Regions from separate parts of the Homo sapiens genome. Here regions 1, 2, 4 and 5 are each linked to region 3. Evidence: fine-mapped expression QTL. A gene starts in region 3. Each other region holds a variant in brackets. All regions are shown on one strand. Distances are between the middles of the regions.

Region 1 (6,344 bases), 46 kb before region 3:
TGGAGGCTTGAAGGCAGGGGCTGCACCTTCAGATATGCCACATTGCCTGTGCACAGGGAGCCCGCATGTGGGGACGTGCAGCTGCCCCTCTCCCACACCTGAGCTAGTCCTGTTTCCCGATCCAGAATTCTTCTCATTGTCAGAGCAACACCCCCAGCTTGTCCAGCAGTGTGTTCTTGGACAATGCCTTCTCCTATCAGGACCTCAGTCTGCAGCTGTCTGAATACAGGCCACAGATGAAAACAGTCTTCCACTCAGGGTTCCTCTCCATTCGGTCTCTCTTCCTCCAGAGGACCCACATCCTTCTGCTGCCCCTGGATCCCCAAGGCCACACACTAGGGTTCCCTCCTGGCTCCCCTTCCCCAAACCTCCACCCAGGCCTGCTCTGCTTCCCGGTTCCCTATCTGCCAGGGGCACGGGGTTGAGAACCCAGCACCACCTTCGACTCTTCTCTTTTTATCCTCCCCACCACCACCTACACACACACACTGCACACGGTTGCCAAAACCATATTGAATTCTTTGGGGAAGAAGGAAGGGAGGGAGGGAGAGAGGATCTTTGGATAGTGCAATGCTTAAGAGTAAGGCTCTGATATCAGATGGCCTGGAAACAAAGATCTAACTATTTTTTTTCTTTGAGATGGAGTCTCAGTCTGTCACCCAGGCTGGAGGGCAGTGGCTCAATCTCTGCTTACTGCAACCACCGCCTCCCTAGTTCAAGTGATTCTCAGCCTCAGCCTCCCAAGTAGCTGGGATTACAGGTGTGCACTGCCATGCCAGGCTAATTTTTGTTTGTTTGTTTGTTTGTTTTAGTAGAGATGGGATTTCACCATGTTGGCCAGGCTGGTCTCAAACTCCTGACCTCAGGTGATCCACCCACCTTGGCCTCTCAAAGTGCTGGGATTACAGGCATGAGCCTCCGTGCCTGGACACAAATATCTAATTTTGGCTCTTCCACTCACTGTGACTTGGACAGCTTCACCTTTCTGCATCTCACTTTCATCATCTAAAAATGGGTTATAATTAATACCTCCGTCATTAAAGTTGTTAGGATGATCAAATGATAGCACATAAATAATAATCCACATATCACCTTGTCCAGGAAATGATCAGGAAATATCAGGGAGTGTTTTTAGGCCATTTGCAGCCAGCAAGGCACACGTTTGAATCCACACCCCATCAGTTACTAGCTGGTGAGCCTTGAGTAAGTTGCTGGTTTTCTCTCTCAGTTTTCTCCTCTCTGAAAAGAGCCATGCAAAAGATATGAGAAGGTCGGCTCTCTGAGAGTGAAGGCCGTGTCTATCCCACAAGTGGATCAAAGAAGCGCTCAATGCATATTGAGTTGGAAGAATGAACGGTGGGAATCGCCTTCACCCGACTGGCTGATTGCTACGATTAGAGTTACCAGTGTGAACTCTCTGCATATGGCAGGCACTTAGTGAGTACTACCTGAGAGTATTTCTTCTCCAAAGGCCACTTGCCGGGGCAAGCTTTCACCACGCTAGACAGCTGTAAGAGCCTCATGACTGTTCTCTGTGCTGCCATCATCAGGCCCTCTCCAATCTTACGCCACCAGATCAGCTTTTCAAAGCACATGTCAGTCTCTGGGTCAGAAACCCCAGCTGCTCCCCTAGAAGTACAGACTTCTGAATCTGGCATTCAGGAGTTCCTCAAGCCCCAAGCCTAACTGCCTCCTGTAAGGATCCTTCATTCAGTTCAACTGAACTTTATTAGGCCACTGCCTCCTCTGGAGACACACCCTCACCTTACTCACACACACGCACCCGCCCATGCACACATACCTCACTTCTGCCATTAGAATTCTGCACATCCATCAATACTTCACCCAGATGCCAGGCCCTCATCTTCAACCACCCTCTATACAACGTTCCTATTGACATGGATTTGAGTCTCCCAGTATTGTGACTAATTGGGTGCTCCGGGTAGGAGCAGAAACTGTCTTTCCACAGAACCAATTTCAGAGCCAAATAAATAGTGGGTTAAATGCATCAGGTTAAAATAACTCATGCCCATCTGGACACTTTTCTTCTTGATTCAGACTGAATCTGAATATGTCATTCCCTCTGTGTCCTGGTCCACAGCTCCGGAGCCCGGCTCACTTCTACTTAGAGCAGCTCTCTGAGTGCAGCTGGTCTAAGATGTTGCCCCTTTGGGACATCATGCCTGCACACTGGCAGGGGGCCTTCAGGATTTTAACCCGTATCGGTTAGACAGAACTTCCGGCCGGAAGGGGAGATACTCTGGATAACCCGTATCGGTTAGACAGAACTTCAGGCCGGAGGGGGAGATACTCTGGATAACCCGTATCGGTTAGACAGAACTTCCGGCCGGAGGGGGAGATACTCTGGAAAGAGGAGCTCTCCAGTGCCCCTCGAGTCCCACTGTGTGTGGGAGCTGATCCCCGCCTGAGAGTTGGCTCTCTAGGAATGGCTGGCCTCGCTGCCTTAGGCATTGGCTGCAGAAGGGCCCAGAAGCCAGAAGCCTCCTGACCACCCCCAGGGATGCTTCTCCAGCTGGGCCACACCCAACACCCCTGAGACCACGACATTGGCAGGCTTCCTATTGGCAGGATGGCCATGGGGATAGAACTCTTCCCAGAACTTTATTCTCCACTTCTGTTTCCAGACCTTTCCCCAGCCAGGGGCTTGACTGGTGAAAGGAAGCTTTGATGGAGATGGGCAATGGATTCAGGGTGGATCAGGCCCTGCTGTATTAGAATCACCAGGCACTCCCTTGGGAATGCAGATTCT[G/A]GGGTCCTGCCCAGACGTGTTCAACTACTCCTGGAATGGGGGTCCAAGGGTCACATGGCCTACAGCTTCCAGCTGATTCCTGTATTCACTACAAACCTTGAGCCCCTCTGGGCAGCCTCAGAGACCTGGGCCCCCAACACTTCTCACTGTGGTGTGTGGTGAACTTTGAGCATTTACCTTCCTGGCGTTTTTTGTTTCACACCTTGCCATCTCTAGAGATTCTTAATTTTTCTGATATAATTTTTACTCAATAGCTCTCTGATACACACTAACCAATAATCAATATTTATACAAATGCTTAGATGGGAAGCGGAGTCCTATTTGAGGGTGAGAAATGGGAAATGACATACCCAAAAAATCCTTGAGTCATTCAGCACACACCCTTGCCTGGACAGAAACATTTTTCAGCCTTTTTCAAACGTGCCTCACTCTTCTCTGCAACTTCTGCTGCCTCCTGGAATGTAGAGAAGAAACCAGCATTCAGAGAAATGTGCTCACATGGATCGATGCCTCATCCACATTACATGCTGACTGCAATCACAAAAAATGGGCCTCACCCTTCTTTTGCTGATGAAATTGAAGTTGGGGCCCATTCATGAGCATGCCCAGGTCTCACAGCAAGTATCTTTCAGAATCAAGGTTTGTGCCCACTCTGAGGCTGTGAAACCCACCTTCTTTCCCTCACCCTCCACCACCTCTTCCCCATCTCTCTGCTTGGGGGAATCCTCAGTGCCCCCCACCCACCCAGTGGCAACCCTCTGAGGGCTCTGCAGACCCCCGCAGGTGGAATCATTGCCTCTCATCTCTCTCCTCCCTGGGGACTTCTCTCTCCTCCCTGGGTACTTCTTTCTCCTCCCTGGGTACTCCCTCCCAGCAGTGGCCACCACTGTTCCTCCTTAAATGAACTTGGCTGCCTGTCTACCTCTGCCACCAGACGGAGTTCCTGGACTCCAGCCCTGCATCTTAAACAGTGCTTTTTCCCCAGACTGGAGGAGTGGCTGACCCACGAAAAGTGCTCAGTGACAGTGGAAGGAATGATGCAGACCTACACCCTTGGGCTGAGAGTGGAGGACAACTTTGCGAGCTTTTGCTGTGGCCTCTTCCAGCTCCTTTAACCCTGAAGAGGCAGGGCCCCAGGGCTCTGAGCTTAACCACCGTTCAGAACCCACACCCTAGGAGCCCAGGCTTGAGGCTGCTTGATGGGAGCTCAGCTCAGGCTCTCCGCTGGTGCATGCACTCTCCTATTTCCCTCTTCTCCACAGCCATACATAGCTTGTAAGGACCTGAATGGACATTGAATGCCTAGAATCTAGCTTCCCCTCATTATGGATTTGATTGATTCTCAACCCTTATTGTACAAAGCAACACAGGCCATTAAATAAGCATGATTTTGGAGGTCCAGCGATTGGACTCAAAGTTGGCTCTGGAACTATACAACGTGTGCCTGAACAGCCCTCAGAGCCCCAAATTCAAGTGTGGAGGGAACGGCAAAGGCATAACATCATGGCAGTTTCTCCTCCAATGACTGGTGTGGCAGGAAGGGAGGCTGACAGGCTCACAGGACAGTCTAGGGGGCACCTGACATTTTCGGGAGTTGTCTAAAGCAGGAGAAGACACAGACCTCATTAATCCCTGCAAAGGGCAGCTCAGGGACCTGGCAGCCACCTCTCACTTCTCCTTGGCTTCCCCTGTGTCTCCTGACAGTCACAGGAGTTTCATTACCATTAACAGCTCTGCAAATTGCACCATCAGCAAAATGCCCAGGTAGTTAATAAACAACTGCACAAGCAAATCCCGGTCACGGACTCTTCTCTCTGCCTCCTAATGAAAGGTGCAACTCTCTGGCATTTCTTCCAACTTCTGGATGTGAGAGGCAAATTTATCCTAAGGGCTCAGGAACAGGACCATCTCTCTAGGCTAGCTGGGAGCCCATTAAACTTGGAAAGGGAAGATCTGTGTTCCATCCCAGGCTCTGATGTCTACCAGTTATATGACCTTGCAAAACTAACTTAATTCCACTGGGTCTCAGTTACTCATCCATAAAATGGAAGCAGTAATAGTATGTACTTCACAGGGTTGTTATGAGGATCAAATGAGATCATCTATGTAATTAATGAAGTGATGGCACAAAATAAGGACTCAAGAAGAGATAGCCATTGTCATTGCTACCTGTCACATGTTCATGACCACGTTGACTCAGCCCATGTCAGGGGTATTGGGAGTTCCAGTCCATGCCCTGAAAACACAGATGAGAGAAATTGCCATTATTATTATTCTCGAGCCAGTGTCTCCCACTCCCTGAGGTCTCAAAGGCCCTCCTTCTCAAACACCCCCATCTGTCTGTTCTCTCTGCCTTCTGTTCCTATCTTTGCTGTGACTCCTCCTTCTTTGTTCTAATCCTGAATCCAGAAGCTGCCAATGCCTGCTGAAGTCCTCTAGCACTGCCTAAAGCAATGTTTTCCCACCGCGGGGATGGGGACCTGGAAGGATGGAACATTGTGACAAAGTGATCCATAAACCAGCTGCGCCCAGACGACTGCTAGGTCTGAGTGTAATCAAGCATTCAGTATGACCATGTGGCCCATTCATGGAGGCCCAGGCCACCTGGAGGCCATAGGAGCAAATGGGATCACAGCCTTAGCTCACACCAACCCCAACCAAAGCAAAGGAGCAGGGATTCACCAGCTTAGGGTCAGAAGGAAATTTGGCTGAGTCTCAAAATTAATAGGGCCCTTGTCCAGCCTGCAGTGTGGATACTGTTGTCAGAGGCCATCTCTGCTGGGGACTGAGTCAGTGTGGGATTGATTTTTAAAGCCTGACTGTCTGCTGATAGATGGTGTGATGAAATGAGAGATATAAATTGTCACGCTTTGCAATCACAGATGCTGTCACTGCAGCTGTCAGGGACTAAGAGGGCAGGCTGGCTGCTGTCATGGGGGTACCCAACCCTGGCAGATTTCCATTTGTCTGGCCAGCATTCAGGAGGACATTTCTTACATGCTAACCCCTCAGAGAAGTGACTGCCAGCAGCTTTATGGGGTGGTGCAATGGCCAGCAGGGGTAGCTCAGGGGGTGCCCTGAGCCCTCCTCCAGAACCTACCAGCCGCATGGCCTTGGGCAAGCTACTGAACCACTGTGCCATAAATCTCATCCTCAGCATAATGATGGTGGTGCTAATACTACCTCATCAGGTCATTGGTTCACAGAGCAAGCGTATGGATGTTGATGGGAGCGAAACATCCCGACTAGCAAGCCAACCCCAATAAGGCAACTCATTATCCCACAAAACACACTGCCGGAGAGAGGAAAATTCCAGGGATTTTTAACTGAATGACTCAACAAGGACAGGAAAACCTAGGTTCCTTTCACCTTCTCCCTCTGCCACTCTTCTGCTGTTGAATCTGTGCTTATGCTGGGTTCCCCATGGTTGCACTAAGCCTGCATCTGTTTTGGCTTCACATCCGGGTAGGACACGTGGAGAGGAGGAAGAGAGGCAACGTCCTGCTTTTGTCTCTTTTTTAAAACCTCTCTCTGAAGCCTCTCACCTCATGTCCACTTTTATCACATTGGCTAA
Region 2 (6,344 bases), 11 kb before region 3:
TCTCCAGGTGCTGAGTCCACTTCCTCCTTCCTTTAGCTCCTGCCCCTGCCCAGGTAGCATCCCAGCCTCAGAAGCGATTAAGCCATCCAGACCCGCTCTGCAGGTTAGTCACTAAAGAGGGTTCAACAGGCACTGGGGGCAGACACTCAAGACATCCAGGGTTATGGGCAGCCATGGGCTGTCTGAGCTGTCGTTTAGCGATAGACTGTAATTCTAAACATGGTGTTCGTTATTCCACTGTGTGGCTTCTAATTAATTTCCAGAAATGCATTGTTGAGGGATGATGGGTTGTGCTGGAAGAACCACTAATACTGCTCATTCATCGCTGCCCATGTGCGGCCGAGCCCAGAGCCACTGACTCCGGAGACCCTGGGCTGCACTGCAAGGACCCGAGGTGACTGCTCCATGCCTGGTAGTGATGATGTCAGTGGCACCACCTCACCTGAACCTGCAGGGGCACATACCTGGGTCCTTCCAGGTACCACCGTTGCCACAGACAGGAAGGTGGCGCCAGAGGATGTCCCCCTGAGTAGTGAAGGATGCCCAAAGTAATTGATCAAATTTTGTGAAAAGGAAATTGCTTGGGGTGGATATAAGGTCCTGCACATGGGGCTGCAAAAGCCAGTCACATGAGCACAGGGAAAAGGTTGAGTTGACAGTGAGAGTCACTAGGTAGGCAGCAACCAGCCACCTAGAAAGCTGGTGCAAAAGATAGTCTGCATAAAGAAAAGCAAGTTATCTCTAAATATAACTTTGTTTTACATGGGTCACACTGCTCAATTCTAACCAACCTATTTAAAAAGATTATATTAGGGGTTTCCGAAGAAACAGAACTATTTTAAGGAATTGGCTCAAGCAATTACAGGGGGTTGTAAGTCTGAGATCCATAGGGCAGGCCAGCAGGCTGGAAATTTAGGTAAGCGTTGAATCCCTCCTTCTTCAAGAAACCCTAGGTTTTGTTCCTAAGGCCTTCAACTGACTGGATAAGGTCCCCCACCCCACATTATGGAAGGTAATCTGTTTTATTTCTTTACAGTCCACTGATTGTAAATGTTAATCACAACTACAATATCCAACTGCAATATCCAGACCAGTGTTTGACCAAACAGCATGCACCATAGCCCAGCCAAGCTGACACAATAAACTCCCAAAGAAACATTAGCATATCAGCCTGAATTCTTTTTGTAAGACACTCCCAAATGTATTGCATTGTTTTACATGCTACTTATTTTAAAAGAGATTGCCAATTAAAGTAGGACATGAGGCATTCTTATGACAATTTTTATTTTATATTTATTCAAAGAGTTGTTTGGGCTTATTTGGGTAATGCTCTTTCTTTTTCTTTTTTTTGAGACGGACTCTTGCTCTGTCGCCCAGGCTGGAGTGCAGTGGCGTGATCTCGGCTCACTGCAACCTCCGCCTCCTGGGTTCACGCCATTCTCCTGCCTCAGCCTCCCAAGTAGCTGGGACTATAGGTGCCCACCACCATGCCTCGCTAATTTTTTGCATTTTTAGTAGAGATGGGGGTTTCACCATGTTAGCCAGGATGGTCTCGATCTCCTGACCTTGTGATCCGCTCGCCTTGGCCTCCCAAAGTGCTGGTATTACAGGCGTGAGCCAACTTTTTCTTATATATACTCTTCTACATAGGTAAAAGGAAAAAATATCTGTAAAGTAAGGTAAGATATTCTTAAAAGTTCACATTCAGAATCAAAGTCTGCTGTACCACTTTTGCATTCAGAGCTGGTGATGTTCAGATCTTTCCACTCAATGTTGTCTCTGCATCACAAGTCTGGCTGGTGCCGTGTTTTATAGGAAACAATATGAGAACTAGAAGCCACTGGGAGCACTTAAGTGGGTTTTGCAATTATGTAGAGCTAGCCTACTTTTGACTCTTGCTTTGGGAATATTACTAAGCATGCCTAACTCACTATCACCCACAGCTGTCTGATTGCTAGGGCCTAGAAAATCCACCTGTATTGTCCTCTGGGTGGTTTTCTAGGCCACTGACACCCATTCTGCAAGTTTTGGGGCTGGAGCCTCTGATGTTTACTCAAGTGCCAGCAATGGGCACTCTTCATGGCCAACACCTAGATAAAGCCACTGTGAGGAGTGGTGGCATGTTCTTATTGCAAAGGTACTAAAATTCGGGAAGGAAATGACTATACCACACTAAGGAGACACATTTATACCAAGTGATGACTGAGGTCTTGCCATGTGGTGGCCACTGGCCTAAAGCCCCACACACGTGACCACATTTAACCCACACAGCAAACATATCGAGGGTGTGCTGCCATCGTGCCCAGCTCGCAGGTGCGATGAGAAGGAGCAGAGGGGTGAAGCGGCTTGCCCTGGTGTACACCAGCCAGGGAATGAAGCCAGCAAGTGGCCCAAGCCACCGCGCCACCTGTGCTAGGAGAGGATAGTGTCCACAGCGCTCCAAGCGCGCTCCTGGGAAGGGTTCTGATAATCCTACCCAAAACTGATGGGGGAACCCGAGACAGCAGGGCCTCGCAGCGGAAGGGCCGAGTCCGAGGCAGTGAGCGCCCCGCGCGGGCGTTTCTACCTGTGAGATGGCTGCGCTAGGGCTCCGACACCAGCCAGGGCCCCACGGAGGGAGCGAGGGCGCATCCAGTGCACCTGGCCCAAAGTAAGCTGCGTCAGCTCGCACGCAGAGAACCTGAAGACTGCTTCTGCTTCTCCTCTTCTGGGTGTAGGAATCCTTTGAAGAGGAAACTGGCACACATACCTCCCTGAATGAGGCACGGCTTCACACCAGTAGGAGAGAGAGAAAGTCAAAGTCTCTAGGCTGGGTGCAGTGGCGCACGCCTCTAATCCCAGCACTCTGGGAGGCTGAGGCAGGCGGACCTCCTGAGGTCGGGAGTTTGAGACCAGCCTGGTCTCTACTAAAAATACAAAATTAGCTGGGCGTGGTGGTGCACGCCTGTAATCCCAGCCGATTGGGAGGCTAAGGCTGGAGAATCACTTGAACCCAGGAGGTGGAGGTTGTGGTGAGCCGAGATCACACCATT[G/C]CACTCCAGCCTGGGTAACAATGAGCGAAACTCCGTCTCAAAAAAAAAAAATAGTAAAAAGAAACAGGTGAAAGAAAGTCAAAGTCCCAACTAACAACAAGGGTATGAATGTTTTGTTCCCCTGGATAAACACTATGAAATCATTATCGGCCTCAAAGATGTTACTAGACAAATATTGTATCTCCCTTTCACCTGATGAGTATCACAGGTCATCTCCTCTCCAGCCCAAGTGTCACAAGGCCTCTCACGACAGCTGACTGCAGGGAACGCCTGCAGGGGTCTCAAACTGAACTTCTGTATGAGCAAAAGCCTGTAATCGTCATGCGTTCAGAAGTGGGTATGTGTTGGTCCTCAGAGTCTGACTGGAGAGGATACTTCTCCCTTCTTCAAATGCAGTCCTTACAAATTACAGTTTTACTTTAAAATTCTGAGTATTTGGCTGGGTCCGATGGATCAGGCCTGTAATCCTAGCACTTTGGGAGGCCAAGGCGGGCAGATCACGAGGTCAGGAGTTCGAGACCAGCCTGGCCAACATGGCAAAACCCTGTCTCTACTAAAAATGCAAAAATTAGCTGGGCATGGTGGTGCACGCCTGTAATTCCAGCTACTTGGGAGGCTGAGGCAGGAGAATCGCTTGAACCCGGGAGGCGGAGGTTGCAGTGAGCCGAGATCATACCACTGCACTCCAGCTTAGGCAACAGAGCAAGACCCCATCTCAAAAAAAAAAAAAAATTCTCAGTATTTTTACCCTGACTCATTATCCAGTAGGGATTGGAGCCCAGGGGTCTATGGATCATAATAACTAGAGGGGCTGTTGAACTCAGGACTTTAGGGAGATAGCAAAAGGGTTTCTGGAGAATGCCTGAGGCCACATTCTGTAAGGGGAAATACATAGTTTCTCCCACAAGGCGACATGCAGTGACTATAAAGACACTGTATGGTTGTGGTGCCAGCTCCAGTTCTTCCTCACTAAGAAGACTATGTAGAATGTTTCTTTGATATTTACCGAACACCCTCTCAAGCCCTGTGTTTGGCAGCATCGTCTCTGATCCCATCTGGACCTCTTCTGGAGACCCAGGTGGACTGCACGATGCTGGGATGCCACCCTCTCCTCCACCTTCACTCGTGCAGCTCAAAGCACAGCTGTTGATACCATGGTTTTACCTGCCGACACCTGTCAAAGGCTCAGCTCGCCTTCTCACCTTCTGCAAGTGCAGCCGCTTTTGTCTCTCTGAACCTAGCTCACTGAATGTGTACCTGGGTGTCCTCCCACCCACCACCACCACCAGCCCTTTCTCTCCCAACTGCTGGCCCTGTCTCACCCAGTGAGTTCCAGAGTAGGCGACAAGATTGGGCTACTGAAATGGTTCTTGGGCAAGTCACTTTGTGAAAAGGGAAAAACGAACTCTCCCACACTCAACATAGAATGCTTCTGTGACCAGATGTGTTTGCGGTTTTCCCTGCATGCCAAGCAATTCTGCAGTGGGCACCAGCTGGGTGTTCAATAATTCAATCCCGACACTGTCATCCGGAGATAGCATCAGATCCCACAGGTTTCCGGCTAAGTCACACGGGGTTGCCCTGCTTCAGATGCCACTTGCAAGTGTCAGACTAGGGCCTGTGTGTCTGACAAACTCACTATAAATCAGGGACCCCACAACCCCCCGATGGATCTGATCATTTGCTAGGACGGCTCACAGACTCGGAGAAACATTTTATTTAGGTTTGCCAGTTGATTATACAGACTGAATATTGGTTCACAATTACAAAGGCTACAGAACAGCAGCCAGATGCAGAGGTGCACAAGGTGTGGGGGTTGTGGAGGACGCACATTGCTGCACCCTCTCTGGGTGCCCCTCTCCAGCACCTGCACATGGTCAGCAGCCTGGGAGCTCAGCAGCCTGCGAGCTCATCTAATGGTGTTGCTCAAGTTTTTACCGAGATGAGGCCAGGCACCAAGGCTCACGCCTGTAATCAGGAGGCCGAGGTGGGCAAATCACCTGAGGTCAGGAGTTCAAGCCCAACCTGGCCAACATAGTGAAACCTTGTCTCTACTAAAAATACAAAAAAAATTTCCAGGCATGGTGGCAGGCACCTGTAATCCCAGGTACTCAGGAGGCTGAGGCAGGATAATGGCTTGAACCTGGAAGGCAGAGGTTGCAGTGAGCCTAGACCAGGTCACTGCACTCCAGCCTGGGCAACAAGAATGAACTATGTCTCAAAAAGGAAAAAAAAATGTTTTTACCAAGATGAGTCTCCAGGCCGGCTTCCCTTCACAGGGGCTCAAAGTCCTAAGCCTCTGATAGGGTTTGGCTCTGTGTCCCCACCCAAATCTCATCTTGAATTGTACTCCCATCATTCCCATGTGTTGTGGGAGGGACCCAGGGGGAGATGACTGAATCACAGGGGAGGTTTCCCCCATGCTGCTTTCATGGTAGTGAGTAAGTCTCACCAGATCTGGTGGTTTATCATAGAGGAGGTTTCCCCCATGCTGCTCTCGTGGTAGTGAGTAAGTCTCACGAGATCTGGTGGTTTGTCATAGGGGAGGTTTCCCCCATGCTGCTCTGGTGGTAGTGAGTAAGTCTCATGAGATCTGGTGGTTTGTCATAGGGGAGGTTTCCCCCATGCTGCGCTCATGGTAGTGAGTAAGTCTCGCGAGATCTGGTGGTTTGCCATGGGGGAGGTTTCCCCCATGCTGCTCTGGTGGTAGTGAGTAAGTCTCACGAGATCTGGTGGTTTGTCATAGGGGAGGTTTCCCCCATGCTGCTCTCGTGGTAGTGAGTAAGTCTCGCGAGATCTGGTGGTTTGTCATAGGGGAGGTTTCCCCCATGCTGCTCTCGTGGTAGTGAGTAAGTCTCGCGAGATCTGGTGGTTTGTCATAGGGGAGGTTTCCCCCATGCTGCTCTCATGGTAGTGAATAAGTCCCGCAAGATCTGGTGGTTTGATAAGGGGAAACCCGTTACCCTTGGCTCTCATTCTCTCTCTTGCCGCTGCCATGTAAGAAGTGCCTTTTACCTTCTGCCATGATTGTGAGGCTTCTCCAGCCACGTGGAACTGTAAGTCCAATAAACCTCTTTCTTTTGTAAATTGCCCAGTCTCAGGTATGTCTTTATCAGCAGCATGAAAACAGACTAATACACTCTCTAATCACTCAGGGAGCATATTAATGCCCATGGGGCATTTCTGGACTTCTCTACTCTATTCTTTAGGGGGCTTTCTGATGCACCCTACATACACAGAGGCCCTGAGGATGGCTAGCTCAGTGATGTCCCCTTGGAGAAGCTCTGCTTGCCTGGCCACTGCCCCAGGCCC
Region 3 (6,344 bases):
TCTCTGCCCTTGAGGACGGGATATCCTGTGGGGAGGTGGACACTACACCACATGAGGGCAGCATGGTGGGGTGGGCACCAATCCACACAGTGCAAGCTACCATGAGACACGCCTCCCGATCACTGTGTGTGTTAGGTGGCATTGCAGGCGCCCTGAATGTCCCCAGCCTTGACAGCCACATGCAGTCAGCAAAGGCCACCTCCAGAAGGCGCAGAAGGCAGGCATGTGATGACTCAGAGCATTTTCCAAGAGCAGTGGCAGAAAAGCAGCCCAATGTTGCCACCACCTGTCACAGCCTGGGTCGGCCCATTCGAGGCAGCCAGTCATACACCATCCATCAACAGGGAGTTGGGTCCCACATCCCCCTCCCTACTCCCCAAAAGACAACCAGAGCCAAAGCTGGCAACGGCTGCCACCTCTGCACTGCGTCAGTGAACAGACCCAGCTACATGGGAAGAGGGGTACTTGTCACCTTTTGTGAGGGTGTCTCTCAGCTTGGCTTCAAAACCCACATTCCCACCTCTTATCTCCTCCTGGAGACACAGTACACAGCTAACATGAAAGCAATTAATTGAGGCCTTTTACCAGACCAATGCGCGTTTCACTCCATGTAGTACCAAGTTAATTATTTAATAGCACAGAAATGCCAGCAGCCTGTGTGGGCTGAGGCTGCCGTGAGCAGCAGAGAGAGCATCTTTTCCACTCCTCTTCATTGGTAAGGAGGCCACAGGTCGCACTGCCCAGGGGCCGAGTCCACACCTGGAAGGGCCCACGCCTTCTGCAGTCGGCACCTCCCCCCGGGCAGCCAAGCAGGCTGGACTGTGGACTCTGCCCAAGGTAACTGCTCATTTGTTTTTCCCACTGTATGGACGAGGAACCGAGCTCTTCCTCCATGATTCAGGAGGGCAAAAGGGGCAAGAGCCCTGCTGGACTCTACGCCTCCTACCACAAGTGGGTTGCCTTCAAGAGGACTCATGGGAGAACAAAGGCAAGGCCGGTGCCAGGCTTGCAGTCAGTGTGCCAAGTGGATGAGCATCCCTTCAGTCCCAACGGCCAAGCAGGCAGCTAGCACAGGCCACGGGAGTAAAATCGCAACAAGTAGACAGCATTCCCGGGAGCACTGCAGGGTCAAGAAGAAATTTAAATCAAGTCTGTGCGCTCAGAGATGACAAACTAGTTGGGAAAACACGTCTTATGCACGTGAGTGTATACGCAACCACAGAAGCCATACACAAAACACCAAGTACACGACCCAACAGGTCAGTCCTGGGAGACCAGAAGACACCAAGCTGACAGCACACTAAGGCAGGCAGGGAAGGCTTCCCGGGGAAATGGAGATGAGGTCGGGCGGTCCCACAGCCAGTAAGTGTTGAAGCTAGGTTTTGAACTCAGGGAGTCCAGCTCCACAAAGCTCATCAAATTGTGATTATTCATCACTGTCTCTATGTCTTTACAAGTGCTGTCTTTTTAATTATTACTATACGTCACTGTGACATCAATGGGGCTTTCACAGAAAACAACCACCTGGAACGCAACGCCCGCGAATCAAAACTGTTGGTCCTGTTCCTGTTCCCCTCTAGTCCAATCTCTGCCTTGGTACAACTGTTCCCATGCTGTTTGGCCCACAGCTGCTGCTGAAGCCCGACCAGCCTGCCCATGCCAGCCCCTGCCAAGGACTCCCAGGCCCCCTTGCACCCAGCGACTGGAAAGGTAATGCCTAACGGCCCAACATCTTTAGAGCTGTAATCTGTCACCTCGCAGAGGAGTGCTGATGGTGCCCAGACAGACTGCTCAGTTATGCCTCTGGAGTGGGAGGTGCAGGAGGTCACCATGGGCTTTGTGCGGAACCAGGAGAAGCAGCCCTGGCTGTGAGATCAGGCCTGGCGAGGACAGCTCCTGCAGTGCCAGCTCTGCACCACCTCCAAGTGCTGCTGCCTCTGGCATGGGAGGTGTTATCATGGACACCATAAATGTGGGACCTTCAGGACTGGTGACAATTTTGATGGGCTGCACTAAAAAATCTGTAAAGGTGGTTAAGATTTAGCATGACTGACTGCCTAAATGCTTCCTTTCATGTGTCTATAAAAGTGATATTATCAAAGCGGAGCTCTGGGACGATTAATCTGGTTGCAGTTCTCAAGGAGTCCAGGCAATATTACTGCCAGGCCTGGAGGTGTGACCGGGGGGTGTGGGTCAGTGTGGCCATGGCCCTGGCAGGGGCAGCGGGGAAGGAGGGTGAGCTAAAGACGCTGGGTTTCATTTTGAATATGTTGAGTTGGAGGAAGAGGTCAGCCTGGAACTTAGGAGCGATGGAAGAGCCAGCATTCTTGCCTTAGCTTGGGGGTGAGGTTCCCCTTGCTCACTGCAGTTTCTCAAGGCCCGAGGCTTTGCGCTGTGGAAAGAAGTCTGAAATTTCAGGGACAGGGACAAGTGTTGCATGGGAACCTCCATGGGAAAGACAAGGTGGTAAGGAGAGGTCTTTGGGGCTGCCGCCTCCCGACCCCCACTGAAGACAGAAAGGAAAAGGGGCCAGAGGGAGATTTGTCTGGGGAGTAACGGGCAAACTGAGAATGCCATCCGCTGCAAGCTACAGCCACCCTGGGCTCTTCACACGTAGACAGAGCCGCCCCCTCCCATCAAGCGTTGCGGGCCAGCACTGCAGGACCCTGGCCTACAAAGGCAATGGGCCTGTGGCTGGCGTCACCCTCCCTCTGGGCAGCCGTGCAGGCACCCACAGGCCCTTGTGACTTTGGTCTTTTGAGAACTATGACAGTTCTGCCTGTAAGGTATGTTTTTTCTCTGTTTCTTTCTCAGCCACCATCACCAAGCTACTTACCACTTAGAAAGGGGAGTAAAAGTCAGGCCTGGAAGCAAACCCCGAGGAAGGCTGGGCTCAGCCTGTTGTGGGCATGGGAGGGCCTCTCTGCCTGAAAGCCGTGAGAGGTGAAGTCCAAGGATGGTCACTGAGGCCTCAAAGGTCTCCTCACTGTGCCACTGAGTCAGATCTTGAGTTCATCCAGGCTTGTGGGGACCCAGAGGACAGAAGATCATGGCTGTTGCCACCCATCTAGAAAATTGAGCCTCTTTCCACGTGTCCTTGGCCTGTGAGTACAAGCTGTCTGATCTGTTGATTGGAGGCTTGAGACAGAACACAGACACAATCCCATCAGGAATTTTCCAGAAGCCTCTGAGATGCCCCCTCCACCCACAATGCCCGAAATAGACAGCTCCCTCAGCGAGCAGACCTCTGGGGTCACAGACCATTTATAAAGGAGCGTGGTGCTCACTAATGCGGCTTTGGAGCTACAGCAAAGCGTAGCAAAAGCCTTGGGAAAAGTTCAGAGTGAGATTAGATCGAGGCTTTCTTGTCTGGGCAAGGCGAGGAGGCTGCCGTCACCTGGCTGGCGGGGAGACCTTAACCCCATGAACTTCAGAGTCTGGCCCCTTGGCCCAGTGCACCCTGGGAAATCCCCTGACTGCTGCACTGGGGAGTGACTGTGGTGAGGGACGTGTCCTCCCCCAGGGCCTCTGCCCTCCATTTGCCTCACAACCCAGGGCCCAGCACAGTCGGGATCACCAAGGTTAGAGCTGTTTCCTCCTCTCAGAACCACAGAGGGGGCCCTGAAAGTGCAAGATTGGAATGCCACTCCAAATGCCACGTGGCTTCCCTGGGACCCACTAACTGGGCAGCAGGGACCTCAGTGCTCTGGGAGGAGTTGGTGGTCCTGACGCTATGCACCCCTTTGGGCAGAATGACCCCCAGGGGACAGAGGCAGCGAGGGGCATCACTCAGATTACCTGGTGGACCCTCACACACCACTCTCATTAAATAGGTAAGAGAATAAAAGCTCAGAAAGGTTCGGTGAGCTGTCAAGACATATGGGGCAAGCCCGTGTTCTAGCCCAGATCTGTGTGAGGTTGAAGCCTTTGAAGGAAGGGCATGGCCCATGAATAAAGGATGTAGCCAAAGGGATCCAGAAGAGGTAGGCTTCAGAATTCCACCCACTCATGGACAGCCAGGTCCCAGTGAGGGCCAAGAAAGACCAGCTCCCTACACCATGAGCCTGGCTGAGGAGCCAGCCTGGAACCCTGGGAAGGAAGGGATCTGTGCTCCATTTGGGCACGCAGAATCATGCCTGATCCCAGACAGACTTTATGTCATCAGCTTTTCAGCTTTACTCTCCAGGATGGTGGATTTGATAGAAGAAGGAATTGTCTGGGTTGTATGTCCAATATGCAATTGTATTGTATATGGGACATCCTAGTTCTCGCTCCTCTGCCCCATCCCAGCTGCTTCCCTATGAAATCAGCAGTGGTTCCCCCGACCCGCCCTCCCCTGCTCTCTCCCATCACCCAGGCACTGCAATCTCCCACTCCATCTCCTCATCCCTTTACCCTGAGCCCCTTTCTGGTGGCCCCCAGATATATCCCCAGGGTTTTTTTGTTTTGTTTGTTGTTGTTGTTGTTGATATTGTTGTTGTTTTTGAGACAGAGTCTCGCTCTGTCACCTGGGCTGGAGTGCAATGGTGCGATCTTGGCTCACTGCAACCTCCACCTCCTGGGTTCAAGTGATTCTCCTGCCTCAGCCTCCCAAGTAGCTGGGATTACAGGCACCCACCACCGTGCCCGGCTAATTTTTGTATTTTTAGTAGAGATGGGGCTTTGCCATGTTGGCCAGGCTGGTTTCAAACTCCTGACCTCAGGTGATACACCCACCTCGGCCTCCCAAAGTGCTGGGATTACAGGTGTGAACCACGGTGCCTGCCCCCCGCCCCCAACCAACAGGATTTTTTGTACATTACAATGGCATGACCCAAACCCTTCCCAGGAGCAGAAAGGGCTGAGACTACCAGCCAGGTCCCACCCAGGGACCACCCTGGGAACCCTGGGCACCTGTACCCACCTCACACACTGCCTCTGACCGGGCACAAGAGCCAAGCCCCATGCACCAAGGATGGAAGAGAAAGCCTGGGAGATGTTCTCTCAGCAGGATCGCTGTCTTAGAGGCTGGACCTCTCTGTGGCTATGATGCCCCAGCAACTTTTATAAAAAGTTATCTCAGTGCCGTGCTGCTCTCAGAGTTGCTGGGATCAAAAGAACAGCTTTACTCAGGGGGAAAAGACAAGGGACCGAAATAGTCAGGATATATACAGCCAGTTGGACAGCGCGGCTCTGCTAAACTGGATATTTGGGTTTTGTTTTGTTGTGCCTTTTTTCTCTCCTTGCTGAGATGCTTGGAGGAGGTACTGTGGGGTGCAGACCACGCCACTCTGCAGGAGGAGGGAAGTAGGAGCCGTTGCTTCCTGATAAAGAGTCGGCAGAAACCACCTAGGTTGATACTAGGTCCTGAGCTCAGACCCCTGTCTTAGCAGGTAAGTCGGATGGGAAAATAGGCATTCTCCATTAGTAATGGGCTCTCCACCCTCTAGGACTATTCAGGTATTTGACTGCTGCTCCAATATGTCTCTACGGGCCACAGGTACACGTGCCATCCAGGTGCACAGACTGTAGGAAGACTCAGGCGTCTGCCCCTGCCACCTGCGGCTGCCACACGGAGTGACGCCCTGGGTGGGAGTCATGCCTCCTGTGAGGCGTGTCATGAAGGCGCCCGCCTGGGGACCGAGTCTGCACAAAAGTAAGGGGCCCTGCCCCCAGATGCAGACAAGGGTCTTCTCTGGACAGACATGGCCCCAGAAGGAAGTTCTCCTCTCTAAGGGTGAGAGGGAAATGGACCAAGCCCCTGCTTCTTTGTGACAGATTACTTGCAGGGATGGCAGTATTGAACAATAATGTTAATAACAAAGTTATCATTACATATATCACAATTAATAAAGCAATTTATATTTATTAGGCACCTGCTATGTGCATAGTACTCTGTATGCAATATGAAAAGAAAGCATAACATGGCCAACCTGTAATCTATAACACGTTAAAGACATCCTCAAAATGCCCTCAATTCATTCCTTATTCACTCATTGACTCCATATTTGATGGCCTCACCTATTTGACCCCAACACTGAGCTAGACATCTCCAGAGATGCTAAGACAAGGCAGATAGATTTTCTAGCCTTATAGGGAATACATTCTGATTAATTGACTCAAATTATGATGCACAAAAAGCCATTGTGGGTGCCCAGGGAAGGGCGTGACTACTGAGCTGCGCCTGGGAGTGTTCAGTAGGAGTTGGACAGCTGGAAAGGGGAGAAGAGAGTGTTCTATGGAAAGAGGACAGTATTATCATCACATTGGCAAGGGCAATGCAAACACAGTAACAAATAACTGGCCATAAAGGACAAAATGTGATAAATGTCAAATGAGTGTTTCACTTGGTAAGTGCCAGAAAA
Region 4 (6,344 bases), 23 kb before region 3:
TAATTATGGTAATGATATCTCCTTCTTAGAGTTGTGAGCATTATATGTGTTAGCGAGTCCAACATCCATAAGCCTGTGCCTGGCACATAGTAAGTATTCAATAATACTATGTTAAGGATAGGGTGAAAGTCAAGGTGTTTTGACAATTATGTGGCATGGACATCAACCCATTAGGATGGAAATCAGCTGCAGCACTGGAGCAGCATCCTGAAGTCACTGTCTGAGTCTGTATTGTGCTGCTGCAATGGAATACCACAGTCTAGGTCATTGATAAAGAACAGAGATTCATTTCTTACAGTGCTGGGGGATGGGAAGTCCAAGGTCGAGAGGACCTCATCTGGCAAGCACCCTCTTGCTGTGTCATCCCATGGTGGAAGGTGGAAGGACAAGAGAGTGCAAGAGAGCAAGAGACAGAGAAGGGGGACTGAACTCATCCTTTCCTCAGGAGCCCAATCCCATGATAACTAACCCACTCCCAAGATGAGTAACTGACTCCCACAATAACTAACTCACTCTCAAGATAAGTAACTGACTCCCACAATAACTCACTCACTCCCAAGGTGAGTAACTAACTCCCACAGTAACTAACTCACTCCCAAGATAAGTAACTGACTCCCGTGATAACTAACCCATTCCCAAGATGAGTAACTCACTCCCACAATAACTAACCCACTCCCAAGATAAGTAACTGACTCCCATCATAACTAACCCAATTCCAAGGTGAGTAACTGACTCCCACAATAAGTAACCCACTCTCAACATGAGTAACTCACTCCCAGGATAACTAACCTACTCCTGAGATAAGTAAACTCACTCCCAGGATAACTAACCCACTCCAGAGGTGAGTAACTCACTCCCAGGATAACTAACTCACTCCTGAGACAAGTAACTCACTCCCAGGATAACTAACCCACTCCTGAAGTAAGTAACTCACTCCCAAGATAACTAACCCACTCCTGAGATAGTAACTCACTCCCAGGATAACTCACTCACTTCCAGAATAGTTAACTCACTCCTGAGACAAGTAACTCACTCCCAGGATAACTAACCCACTCCTGAGATAGTAACTGACTCCCAGGATAACTAACCCACTCCCAAGATGATGGCATTAATCCATTCATGAAGACTGAGCCCTCATGACCTAATTACCTCTTAAAGATCCCATCCCTCAAAAGTGTGCATTGAGGATTAAGTTTCCGACACATGAACCTTGGGGGACACACTCAAACCACAGCAGACATTAATCTATAAATTCCTGAATGTGGGAAAAGGTAGAGCTGGTCCCAGGGAAGTCAGTGGCAGGGTCCACAGCCTTGGGAGACTCAGACAGGCAGCTGTCTGCCAGCTGGTGTGGGTGGGCTGTCATGTTCTAACTCGAAGACAAACTGTGCAGCCCTCACCAGCCTGGCATCACCACCAGCATGCCATGTGTGAGGCAGAAGGCTTCCAGGTTCTCAGTGGTCTTCCATCTTTGTTTGTGGTTTTCTAAAGCTTTACAATTTTATGTGATCAGAATGATCTATCTTCCTTCGTGCTTCTGGAAGGCCTTAGCCACCAAAGATTATACAAATATTCATTCATGTTTTTGTTCAGTATTTTTCCGGACTCCTTTGAATATGTAAAATCTCAGAGAGTGAATTTCCATTTTCCATGGCTGTTCAGCTTTTTGAGCAGATACATTCTCATTGCCAGAAGGCCTATTCTGTAGGTTACAACTTAATTTATACAAATATATATAAAGTATATATATACCAATGTATAAATATAATATTTATATCTGCAATAAGAAATAATAGGTCTTCAGTTGCTCCACAGTTCTGTGGTGCATGCCCAGCTCCCTGAGGCCCACAGATGAGCCTGGGTCCCGTGGGTCATGCTCAGAGCTCCCTGAGTCCCTCCTGAGCACAGCTCCCCATTACATTTACGGGTGCTTATTTGATGAATGGTTGTGTCTCCCACACACTTCAGTAAGTTCCACAAGGACAGACAATGTCTCAGCTCACCATTCTGGCCCCAGAGACAAGCACAGAGCTGAGAGTAGAGTGCATGCCACAGATAGAGAGCAGGAGGGAAGACGGAGAGAGAGTGATGAGAATGAGCCGGGGGTGGGGAGACAGAGAGCAAGAGAGAGCAGGGAGGAAAGCAGCATCAGTCTTTGTGCCTTTGTTCCTCCCCACCCCCAGCCCATCACTCCACTGGGCTCACCCAGAAATAGGTGCCCAAAACAGATGGTTCAATTAAATTGAATATAGTTGAATTGCAGGTGGCTGTTCGGCTCCCAGAACCCAGCGTGCAGACGCGCCTGTGACTGACCACCTATGCAGTCTCCAATCTAGCTATTTGTGTATGTCTCTTTCTCTCATGAGACTGGAAAGTCCTCGAAAACAAGGACCTTCTATCATTCATTCTTATATCCTCGCCCTCCTTACACTGAGTTTGAGCTCAGAAAATGTTTGGCAAATGAGAGACAGAACCGTGCAGCACCCTAGCCTGAGCCTGGGGCAGCACAGCCTGCAGCAGCCCAGCCTCCAAGGCTCCTCCCATCAGGTCTCAGCCTCAGCAGCTCCCTCGCCCCAGCCAACATCCCTACACCTCCATCCCACATTAGCAATAGTTATTGGATGTGTAAATTACCATCAATGGAGTGACAAAGACTCAATTAAAGAAGGAGATCTGAAGTCAAAGCTGTCACCTCAGAGAAATCAGCCTTGACAGATAACAGCAGCAGCTCTGCAGGGCAAGTACTCAGAGGTAAGGGCTGGAGGGACCCCTTTCCTCACCCCTGGCCCGCTTTGTGTGGGAGAAGGGTGGGATCTGTCAGGGACTGCTGTCACCTCCCTGCCCGGGCAGGCCCTGAGGAGGGCCGGGAGCCACAGGGAAGCTCTCTGCATCATCCACCTCCTCCAGCCCTCTGAGAAAGAAGAGCCTGAGCAAAGATGCAGAGAACACTTGGCTGAGCTGGCACCACTCAGCAAGCAGCCTCCTGCGAGGGGGCCATGAGAGGGCACTGACCCTGCACTACCGCTGCACATCTGCACAAGCTGGGCATTCAGGCCAGAGTGCAGGGTGGCTGCTGGCCATGTCTCACTGCTGCCAAGCCCAGGGCAATGGTGGGAGCTGCGCGACTTCCCCATGCCTCCATGTCCCTGCTTATAAAACAGGACCTTTCCAAGAACAAGGTAGCTGTGGTCAGAGGAAAGAAGCACACACTCTGTGCTTCCATGTTCACCCAGCACCAGCTGACTAGGGGCTGCCAGCTCACCAGGCCATCCTCACTTCCTACTTCTCCCA[T/C]GCTGCCCCAAGGGGTCAGGCCCTGGCTTCCCCTCAAGCATCCTCCAAGCCAGTATGACACATGCCGAGCCTGGCACCTCAAAACCTGCTCCCTCACAGTTCCCACAGAACATTTTAGCCTCATCAGCCCACCCTTGAACAACCCTAGGTCCCAAACCCAGTCCTACAGTCCTACACCCTATAAACATTTCTCACAGTTCCCACCTGATTTCATTCCCCTTTTTGTGCAATCCCACAGCAAATTCCACCTCAACACTTCTTATGCTATACTATTTTTAGTTTTACATTTTCATATTATTATGTTAATATGAAATATTATTCATATAATATTACTAATTATTACATTATTAATATTAATACCACAAGTTTACATGCTCTTAGAGGGCATCCTTGATATACGTCAGCTCAATAATATGCACATATTATAGACTCAGGGAATGTATTTTGGATAGATGAATGAACACATACCTAAATGAATAAATCAACATAACTTACCAAATCCAGGTCTGTAAAAAGAGAATTACAATGAATGGGTTGATGTGAGGAACACTTATTATATAATGAATAATAGTGTTTTGCAATCTGAAAATAATTATCCAAGAGTGTACTATTTTTTCTTTTTTAATTTGGAGACGGAGTCTCACTCTGTCTCCCAGGCTGGAGTACAGTGGTGTGATCTCGGCTCACTACAACCTCCACCTCCCAGGTTCAAGTGATTGTCCTGCCTCAGCCTCCCGAGCAGCTGGGACTACAGGCACGTGCCACCACTCCCAGCTAATTTTTGCATTTTTAATAGAGATGAGCTTTCACCATATTGGCCAGGCTGGTCTCAAACCCCTGATTTCGTGATCCACTCGACTCAGCCTCCCAAAGTGCTGGGTTTACAGGCGTGAGCCATTGCACCCAGCCAAAGTGTGTACTATTATTGAAGTTATCTTTACAAGTTCTCTCCCTATCTGTGTTTTCCGGCAGCAAAAATACTGTGACACCACAGTGACAGAAGCCTTAAGCAAGGACGGTGTGACAGGACAGAAACAGAGGCCTTAGGCAAGGATGGTGTGACAGCACAGAGACAGAGGCCTTAGGCAAGGGTGGTGTGACAGCACAGAGACAGAGGCCTTAGGCAAGGGTGGTGTGACAGCTCAGAGACAGAGGCCTTAGGCAAGGGTGGTGTGACAGCTCAGAGACAGAGGCCTTAGACAAGGGTGGTGTGACAGCACAGACACAGAGGCCTTAGGCAAGGATGGTGTGATAGCACAGAGACAGAGGCCTTAGGCAACGATGGTGTCACAGCACAGAGACAGAGGCCTTAGGCAAGGATGGTGTGATAGCACAGAGACAGAGGCCTTAGGCAAGGATGGTGTGACAGCACAGAGACAGAGTCCTTAGGCAAGGATGGTGTGATAGCACAGAGAAAGAGGCCTTAGGCAAGGATGGTGTGATACAGCACAGAGACAGAGGCCTTAGGCAAGGATGGTGTGATAGCACAGAGACAGAGGCCTTAGGCAACGATGGTGTCACAGCACAGAGACAGAGGCCTTAGGCAAGGATGGTGTGATAGCACAGAGGCAGAGGCCTTAGGCAAGGATGGTGTGACAGCACAGAGACAGAGTCCTTAGGCAAGGATGGTGTGATAGCACAGAGAAAGAGGCCTTAGGCAAGGATGGTGTGATAGCACAGAGACAGAGGCCTTAGGCAAGGATGGTGTGATACAGCACAGAGACAGAGGCCTTAGGCAAGGATGGTGTGATAGCACAGAGACAGAGGCCTTAGGCAAGAATGGTGTGACAGCACAGAGACAGAGGCCTTAGGCAAGGGTGGTGTGACAGCACAGAGACAGAGACCTTATGCAAGGGTGGTATGACAGCACACTTATGAAAGGTCTTAGGAGGAAAGATAGCCATTTAAAGCCAAGGTTTGAGTCACAGTGAAGCAGTGGTTTTGGTTTTTTGTTTAGCTTTATTTTGTTTTCCAAGCAGGTTATCCCTTAAGTGATTTTTCTGTCCCTTAGGTCGCATTGCACTCCTAGACATTACCACTCACTGAGGCCTTTTCATGTCCTGGAATACCTTGAAAATAGACCAACTAGAGATGGGTAGAAGAGAAACAGAAGGGAAGGCTATGCACAGGCTACATTTATGATCACGGTGGGAGAGAAGATTTGTAACAGACAAGAATACAAACCTCTCACACTGCAAAGAAGGTTGCCCCTTCCCACACGCACTAACAGAAGGGCCTCTGAACCCCCACTCCTCCCACCTGCCAGCATTGTCTTCTAAAGACAAAGACCCCTCTCGCCTTTCTAAGTGGATATTGACAAATGAGGGAACATGTATGCTCACAAAGGAGGAGAGCTCGCATGGCCCACAGAGCTTGAGCTCCTCAAAAGTGGAAGAAATCCCATGGGAGAAGATGGACTTAAGCGACAGGATGAGGCTGTTTCTTCACTCTTGGTAGTTAATGGAGCATCAGGCTAGAAAACCAGACCTTGCAGTACCTCCATTTCTGATAAAGACCACAGAACCCCTTCCTGAGCCTGGAGACCGCATGGTGGTAGGAGAGGGGGGTTGGAAGGGGGAAAGTTCACAGCCCTCGTGGGACTATCACTCAGCAGCAGAACAGCATCTGTCAAACGCATCACACTGATTCCTGAGATTCTGTTTTACTTCCAGCAATATAAGTCAATATAGGTAAAAATGAGAAACTAAGTTTAATCAAGCGGCAAAAACAGAAGAAATCATGGCATTTTTCAATACGCTCGAAATTACTTTGGCAATCCTCGAGTGCTCTAGGAGTCCCTGTCAAGCATGCCCAGAGGAACACAGTGGCCATCTGAGGCTCTGCAGAACTGCTGCTGCAGCCTCTGGAGAAGCACCCACCCCAAGTGCAGAGAAGGAAGATCCAACCACTAATCTCAACCCTTTCTGAAAAAAGACATGCATTGGCCTACACACATGTGCAGAATTTCACTATTTAAAAAAATTTGGCATACATTTAATGGGGCACCTCTGTTTCCTCCTAAAATGCAGGTAGATGGAATGTATTACAGTATG
Region 5 (6,344 bases), 31 kb before region 3:
CTCCCTAGTGCCCACATCAGAGGTGGCAATGGAGGATGATTGACAGGGAGGACCCTTCTGAAGGCGGAGCCAAAAGCCATGAAGACACAGTTCAAGGCGATGCTCCTGGAGACAGTGGGTGGGGACCACATGGGCCAGCCAAGGAACCCAGTCCACTGCCGGACGGAGAGGCCTTTTCACTCCTGCCTAGCAGGGTGGGTCCATCACTGTAAACCAGTGATCTCTGTGTTTCTCTTTCCTCCCTTTTCTGAATGGAAGATTGACATTTTTAAATTGTGGTTATTTTATCTTTCCTCTCAAGGAGAAAAGGTAGGGTAGGTTGGGAAAAAAATGGCCTGTCTTTTAGTTCATAGGTCACCAGCCATGAGAAGCCACATCTGGGACTGATGGAGCAGACTGCCCACACACAAGCTAGATGCAGAAACTGGGTGTGATTTGGGAGTGGTGGCTTGGGAATCAGAATGCGCTCTATGTGGAAGAGCAATGTCTGTGGAAATCAGAGAAAACCACAGTGGCAGATGCAGCAGACATTGCTAGGGGCCTTTCCCATATTCATTCTTTGTTGGTAGCATATCCTTATTTTATTAAGGGTAGCAATGTGCCATTGAAAAACTACATTTCCCAGCTTCCCTTGCTGGTAGTTATGGCCATGTGACTAAATGCCGACCAATGAGATGCAGACAGAAGATTATGTGTGATCTTTGTAGAGAAACGCCTTTTTCCCGCCTTTTCTCTTTTCCCCAGTTTCTACCTAGAATATGAACATGATAGGTAGAGTTGCACTCACTGTCACTGTTTTAGTCCATGAGAAGACCTGAAAATGAAAATAATGTGACAAGAACTCAGAATATAAATACTACCATGTTTGCTCATTGCCAGATTTCTATTACAGGAAGGGTGAGAAACAAACCTTCTGTTTTGTTTAAGCTATTGATCTTCTATATCCTCTTCTTTAGCTGGAAGTAGAATATAATTCTTACCTGATTCAAGCTCATCACCTACGCTTTTGGTGTCAATTTTAGCATCTGCAAAATGGGGATAAAAAAAAAACTATATCCAAGACTTCTTTGTGAGAATTTAAATGACATAATATATTTTAAAAGTCCAGCTCCAAACTTGTCACATAATAATTGCTGGATAAATAGAAACTATTCCTGCATTTACTACTATTACTAGTAGCATTATTATTATTATATAATCACTAATGACTAGGTCAAGCCAAGATCGAAACATAAGTATTCTAACAGCCAAACCTTTGCTTTTGCAGTTTGTAATCTTACTAATTCTCAACACCTTACCCTGAGCTACAGATAGACTCAAAGCACCAGAATAAAGGACAGAAATATTTGAGGCCCAGATGAGGAAGGTTTGCTGCAAGCAGCAGGCAGAGGTTAGAGCAGGATCAACCTGCTTTTTCTGTAAAGAGCCTTATAGTAAACATTCTTGCTTTGCAGGCCATACGGGTTCTGTTGCAGGTGTTCAATGTTGCCATCACAGCATAAAAGCAGCCATGGGCAATGTGTAAATGAAAGAACATGGCTGTATTCCAACAAAACTTTATTTACCAAAAAGGCAACAGGCTGGCTTTGGCCAGCAGGGCCTGGTTTGCCAATCCCCTGCCTAGAGGGATGTCCTGTGAGAAAAGACGCAAAAGAGACATGGAGGAGGCCCTAGTTCTGCAGCAATCTGTCCCAAGGCCCGGAGAAGGTCACAGATGCCCCTGTGCCCCCTCCAGCTTGTCCCCCAGTGCTCAGCACCTCAACACCGTGCTCTTCCTGGGCTCAGAACAAGGCGTGTGCAGCTGCACACCCCCTGCATGAAGGTTTCCTCCTCACCCCCACTCCATCTCACTGGACTAACTCCTACTCATCCTGCAGTTCCCAGCCTAGACGCTTAACTATCACACCTTTCAGAAAACCTTCCCGGCCCCAAGCCCGCTGCACTGTGCTGCATCACCCGGTCGCCTCCTTTGTCACACTCTGCTCAGGCACAGACTCTGTGCTCAGGTGCTAGGAGGATACTGCTGGGGCTCACACTGCCTGCTCAGGAGTCATCAGAGAAGGAAGTTTCAAGCCGGAGGTCAAACACAGGGGGAGCTTGGCAGAATGCGAGGAGAAAGGAGCAGGAGTTTGGGGTCCCAGGGCCAGGCAGAGGCATGCAGGTCAGCTGTGAGCACCTCCTCCTCACCTCCCCTCTGCCCCAGCGAGCAGCATCTGCCCAGTCCCACTCCCTGTAGGCTCTCTGCCAGAGGCCGCATCACCAGCAGGCTGTTAACCTTGGTAATGAAAAGCAACAACTTTATGGGCACCAGAAACTGGCGAAGCTCATCAATTTTATTCATAATAGAAAATTATTGCTTGAAGGCAGGGCACAGTGGCTCATGCCTGTAATCTCAGCACTTTGGGAGGCCAAAGCAGGCAAATGGCTTGAGGTCAGGAGTTTGAGACCAGCCTGACCAACATAGTGAGGCTCCGTCTCTAAAAAATAAACATACGAAATATTAGCCAGGCATGGTGGTGCTCACCTGTAGTTCCATCTACTCAGGAGGCTGAGGCGTAAGAATTGCTTGAGCCTGGGAGGCAGGGGCTGCAGTGAGCCGAGATTGTGCCATTGCACTCCAGCCTGGGCAACAAGAGCAAACCTCCATCTCAAGAAAAAAGAAAAAAGGAAATTAATATTTGGAAAGAGTAAGCCAGCAGCAGTAAGGACCTCTGGTTTCAAATTGTTCTGTGAGGAAAATGCACTAGGAGAGAAGAAAAGACACACACACAATACCCTTAAGGGTGAACAAGCTTTATCTCACATAAATGGTAATGCAGATATAATACGCAAATGATAT[A/C]AGCAAATTGCAATGGGAAGGGGAGAAGGGAAAAGACATATATATATTTACACTCACCAGACTACGGAGGATTCACCACCAGACTGGGAAGCAGCAGGCTGGGCTCCAGAGTCAGACACTCGTTCATGCACAGATGAGGAGAGGTCTCACAGAGCTTCAGTGCGGTCTGGGACCTGAGCTCTGTTGTTACTTGTTACAAGTTGTTTGTCATGAGGCCCAGTCACGACGGCACTTCATGATTGGGCTCAAGGAACACAAAACGGGCAACTTGCTTTTGCGATTGTCTGTTGTTTTTCAGTAACTAACGTATAGGAATAAATTGAAATAGAGATTTCTCCAAAACAGCGCTGGATGAACCCCTGAAGAGGCTCACACAACCTGTTCCGGGACTTGGTGACCATTGTTTGTGTCCACATTCAGTTGAGTCCAAATTAATATTTAACTTTTCCTCCACACAAATATGAGCTGGGAGGTGCGGAGTTTCCTGACATTGAGGGTTACTTTCCCCTTTATTACACCGCACCAGAAGTACTGTCTTATTTTTATGGGGGTATTCTTTGTTTTCCAGTTCCAGGAATTCCATTTGTATTAGGAGGAGGTAGGGGAGGACAGTCTACCTCTGTCCTTTCCCCTCCCCTCATGTCATTGGAATGAAGAGGGTATGGGTGCAGCCCACGGCGGGCAGCTTTTCCTCCTCTGGCCCTAACCCACCAGACAGCATCTGGTTCTCAACGCAGAGCTTTGGGGAGTGGGGTGGGGGAGAAAACAGGAATGGAGAATAGAAGAAAAGAAAGAGAGAAGGAGGGAGGGAGAGGGGAGAAAATGCAGCGCTAACTGGCATTGACCAAGAGCCAAGCACGAGCTAAGCACGTCATGGGCTTTACCTCTTTAATCTCATTTAACTTTCACAACAATCCTCTGAAGTTAGAATGATTTTCCGTGCTCTCGAGATGAGGAAACTGTGTCTCAGGAAAAGTAAGTAAGCTCTCAACACCTGTTACTCAAACCTGGGCCTTGAGACTCATGCCCGTGCTGCCCAGGGCAGCCCCCTCCATGGTGCCCACCGCGGCCGCCGGCTCTGCAGCCCCTCGCTCACTCCTGTCCTGCAGCCCCGTGCTGAGGCTGCATTCTGGCATCCAGGATCCATCCGGAGCTGCCGTGATTCCAGGGCGGCTCATGACTGTATAATTAAGGGGAAGGCAGAGGCGTCGCCAAATAGGACCAAGGGCCGACTGCAGGAGCTGCCAATCCTCCACACAGACGCACGCACGGCGCTCCTCTGAGGGGTGGGGAAGCCGTGGGGCCTCCTGTGGAGAAGCACATCCCATCTGCACTGCAAGAGGAAGCGTTTTGGTTAAGAAACAGCGCCTTATGCTCTTCACACAAATTCACCCAGACTCAGGAGTCAACAGCTGCTTGACTTTCCTGAAAACGGCTGGTGCAAGCCCTTCTCCAGGAGCACATGAAGTGGCCAGTCATGGCTGCCTCTGCGGAGAGGAAAACATGCTTGAAACTGAATTGCTTCCAGAAGGGAACTGTAACAAACTGTAACAAATCTTTTAATTTGACCCTCCCGCTCACTGTGTAGAAGGAACCCGTGGTGAATTTTGGCTGGATATGGGGCCACTGGGGCAATGTGGTTTGGGTTATGAGTGTGAGCTTCAGTGTGGCACATACCAGGCTCAAATCCATACCCTACTCTCACTGCGCTTACTTCAGATAAGTTCTTCAACCTCTGGGTAAGGCTCCATGCTAATAAGCTGTAATAATAACCCTGACACAGTCACTGTAAGGACTGAAGAGGCGACACATGGGTGGAACTAAGCACTTGGTAAGCCCCCCATACATGTGGGCAGTTACGGAGCAGAGAGAATGCAGGCCTGACACTGGGAGGGCAGGTCAGGGGTTGTTTTTTGCTGGGACAATTCTCAACATGTGTTTTTCCCTACAACCACCCTACTTCACCTATCATTGAGACGTAATTGAAATATGGCTTCTCCCAAAATTCAGGAAATCAGGGTCTAGAGAAGTTCTATTGTTAGGCATAGGCATATACAGTGTCATATGGTCTCCACTCCACCCACCCCTCCTGCCCCAGCAGATCCAGCATGCCATGCCTGGAAACAGGAGAGCTTCACAGGGCACTTACGGAATCCACCAAGCATCTCCTCCTAAGGGCCACTAGGACCAGCCCACAGACATGGGAAAGCGCTGACTACCTTGTTTGCTGTGATGTTTCAGTACATAACTCCTGTTCTCCTAGAGCATTTCTCTTTTGTAAGTGAATTGGTATAGTGCTTGAATCCAGAAGGAGGGATCCTGGACTCCCCTCGTAAGCTCCCGGGAGCTTAAGAAATCAGCTGACAATTTCCTGTTGTCGAATTGTTCTAGCAGCATGAATGCGTCCAGCATAGACTCTCCCTGGTGTGAACTGGCCTGAAAGTTTTTACACCATCCTTTGGCAAGGAAGATGAGAAGCTTTTCCGTGAAAGAGTACACACAGCCCATGCATGACATAGCTCCAGGTATGTGCTCATTGTGATAGGAAAGGGCATCGGGAGGCCGAGCACCTTCAGCAAGAGGCCTGTGAGAAATGATTATCTAGAGGGTGTCGCTTCCATTCCCAACTCATCCCAGGCAGAGGTGATTCTCACCTTGCATTCGGGGCCACAAATGAGCGCTCTTGCAAATAGGCAGCACAGAAGAGCATCTTCATCCAGACCTCTTAACTCTCATAGGAAACATTAAGGCCATGACTATCCCATCCCAGGACTTTATTATGGTGTGTTTTAAATGCCATTCACCCTCCAGGTGGCCCCTCTGCTCACAGAATAAGTTCTCTGTGGTCTTAAATCTGTTAGCAAAATGAGGATGTAAATCCTCAGTGACTTGAGCCTGCTGTTCATATTTCTGAATAATCTGGGAATTTTGAAAGCTTGGAGGTGACTGACCCTGATTTTAAAATGTACCCAGGATTTATTTTAATTGGACACGACAAGGCCAACAGATCAGGAGACGCTTGTCTTTGAAAAGATAGTTTGTTACAGTTCCCAAGAGGAGGGGCAGTCCATACCACCCCGCTCAGGGCCATGTGGAGAAGCACCAGGTCAGTCAGGGGTGGGGACGAGAGGAGAACTTGGGCAAAATCCTTGGGAGTGGTGAAAAGGAATGGGGAGGCAGGGGGAGGGCTGGGCAGGCTCAGGCCTGGGTAGTTTGGGATTCCAGAAGGCTCTGGTTACACGGGCAGTCTCTAGCTGCCCGGCACCTGGCCCTGAGATGATTAGGGCAGGGAGATAGTGTCCCAGACTGCAGGATCCTGATCACGGGCGCTCCAGCCTGGTGGGTTTGCATATCAAAGACCTGCTGGCAGGCAAGTTGCTGGTGATCTCCAGGAATGAGCAAACCCTGGGAGAGGCAGTCTCTCTCTGGGTCCTCAAGGGCATCATAAAATACAGAAAATAAAAACATAATTAATAAAACGTTTTCCAGTGGTCATATTGCATTT

Alleles and levels. Alleles are on the strand shown, and positions count from the first base shown. SD is a standard deviation of normalised expression in the study named. Not every link is listed here.
For the expression in hippocampus of the gene that starts at base 3,139 in region 3, allele G in region 2 goes with a higher level than allele C (small effect, 0.35 SD a copy in GTEx).
In carriers of allele T in region 4, the expression in prefrontal cortex of the gene that starts at base 3,139 in region 3 tends to be higher than with C alone (large effect, 0.94 SD a copy in BrainSeq).
As copies of C replace A in region 5, the expression in spinal cord of the gene that starts at base 3,139 in region 3 goes down (small effect, 0.38 SD a copy in GTEx).

The links.
Region 1: its variant is fine-mapped to the expression of B3GAT1-DT in cerebral cortex (GTEx, PIP 0.91).
Region 2: its variant is fine-mapped to the expression of B3GAT1-DT in hippocampus (GTEx, PIP 0.97).
Region 4: its variant is fine-mapped to the expression of B3GAT1-DT in prefrontal cortex (BrainSeq, PIP 0.95).
Region 5: its variant is fine-mapped to the expression of B3GAT1-DT in spinal cord (GTEx, PIP 0.91).

What each region holds. Positions count from the first base shown.
Region 1 is chr11:134,479,507-134,485,850 of GRCh38, reverse strand. B3GAT1-DT (B3GAT1 divergent transcript) reads right to left here. Exons shown (of 6, transcript NR_033852.1): 4 at 4,940-5,006; 5 at 3,121-3,224. Among named protein-coding and RNA genes, the nearest start is that of B3GAT1-DT, 46 kb to the right of the region's middle. The variant G/A (reference allele first, on the strand shown) is at 2,771.
Region 2 is chr11:134,444,023-134,450,366 of GRCh38, reverse strand. The region is part of intron 1 of B3GAT1-DT (B3GAT1 divergent transcript); the gene reads right to left. Among named protein-coding and RNA genes, the nearest start is that of B3GAT1-DT, 11 kb to the right of the region's middle. The variant G/C (reference allele first, on the strand shown) is at 3,033.
Region 3 is chr11:134,433,277-134,439,620 of GRCh38, reverse strand. B3GAT1-DT (B3GAT1 divergent transcript) reads right to left here and starts at 3,139. Exons shown (of 6, transcript NR_033852.1): 1 at 2,837-3,139. RefSeq lists an enhancer at 79-579.
Region 4 is chr11:134,456,117-134,462,460 of GRCh38, reverse strand. All of the region lies in intron 1 of B3GAT1-DT (B3GAT1 divergent transcript), which reads right to left. Among named protein-coding and RNA genes, the nearest start is that of B3GAT1-DT, 23 kb to the right of the region's middle. The variant T/C (reference allele first, on the strand shown) is at 3,292.
Region 5 is chr11:134,464,168-134,470,511 of GRCh38, reverse strand. It overlaps B3GAT1-DT (B3GAT1 divergent transcript), which reads right to left. Exons shown (of 6, transcript NR_033852.1): 2 at 2,897-4,172; 3 at 2,525-2,647. Among named protein-coding and RNA genes, the nearest start is that of B3GAT1-DT, 31 kb to the right of the region's middle. RefSeq lists enhancers at 3,384-3,948, 3,949-4,514. The variant A/C (reference allele first, on the strand shown) is at 2,840.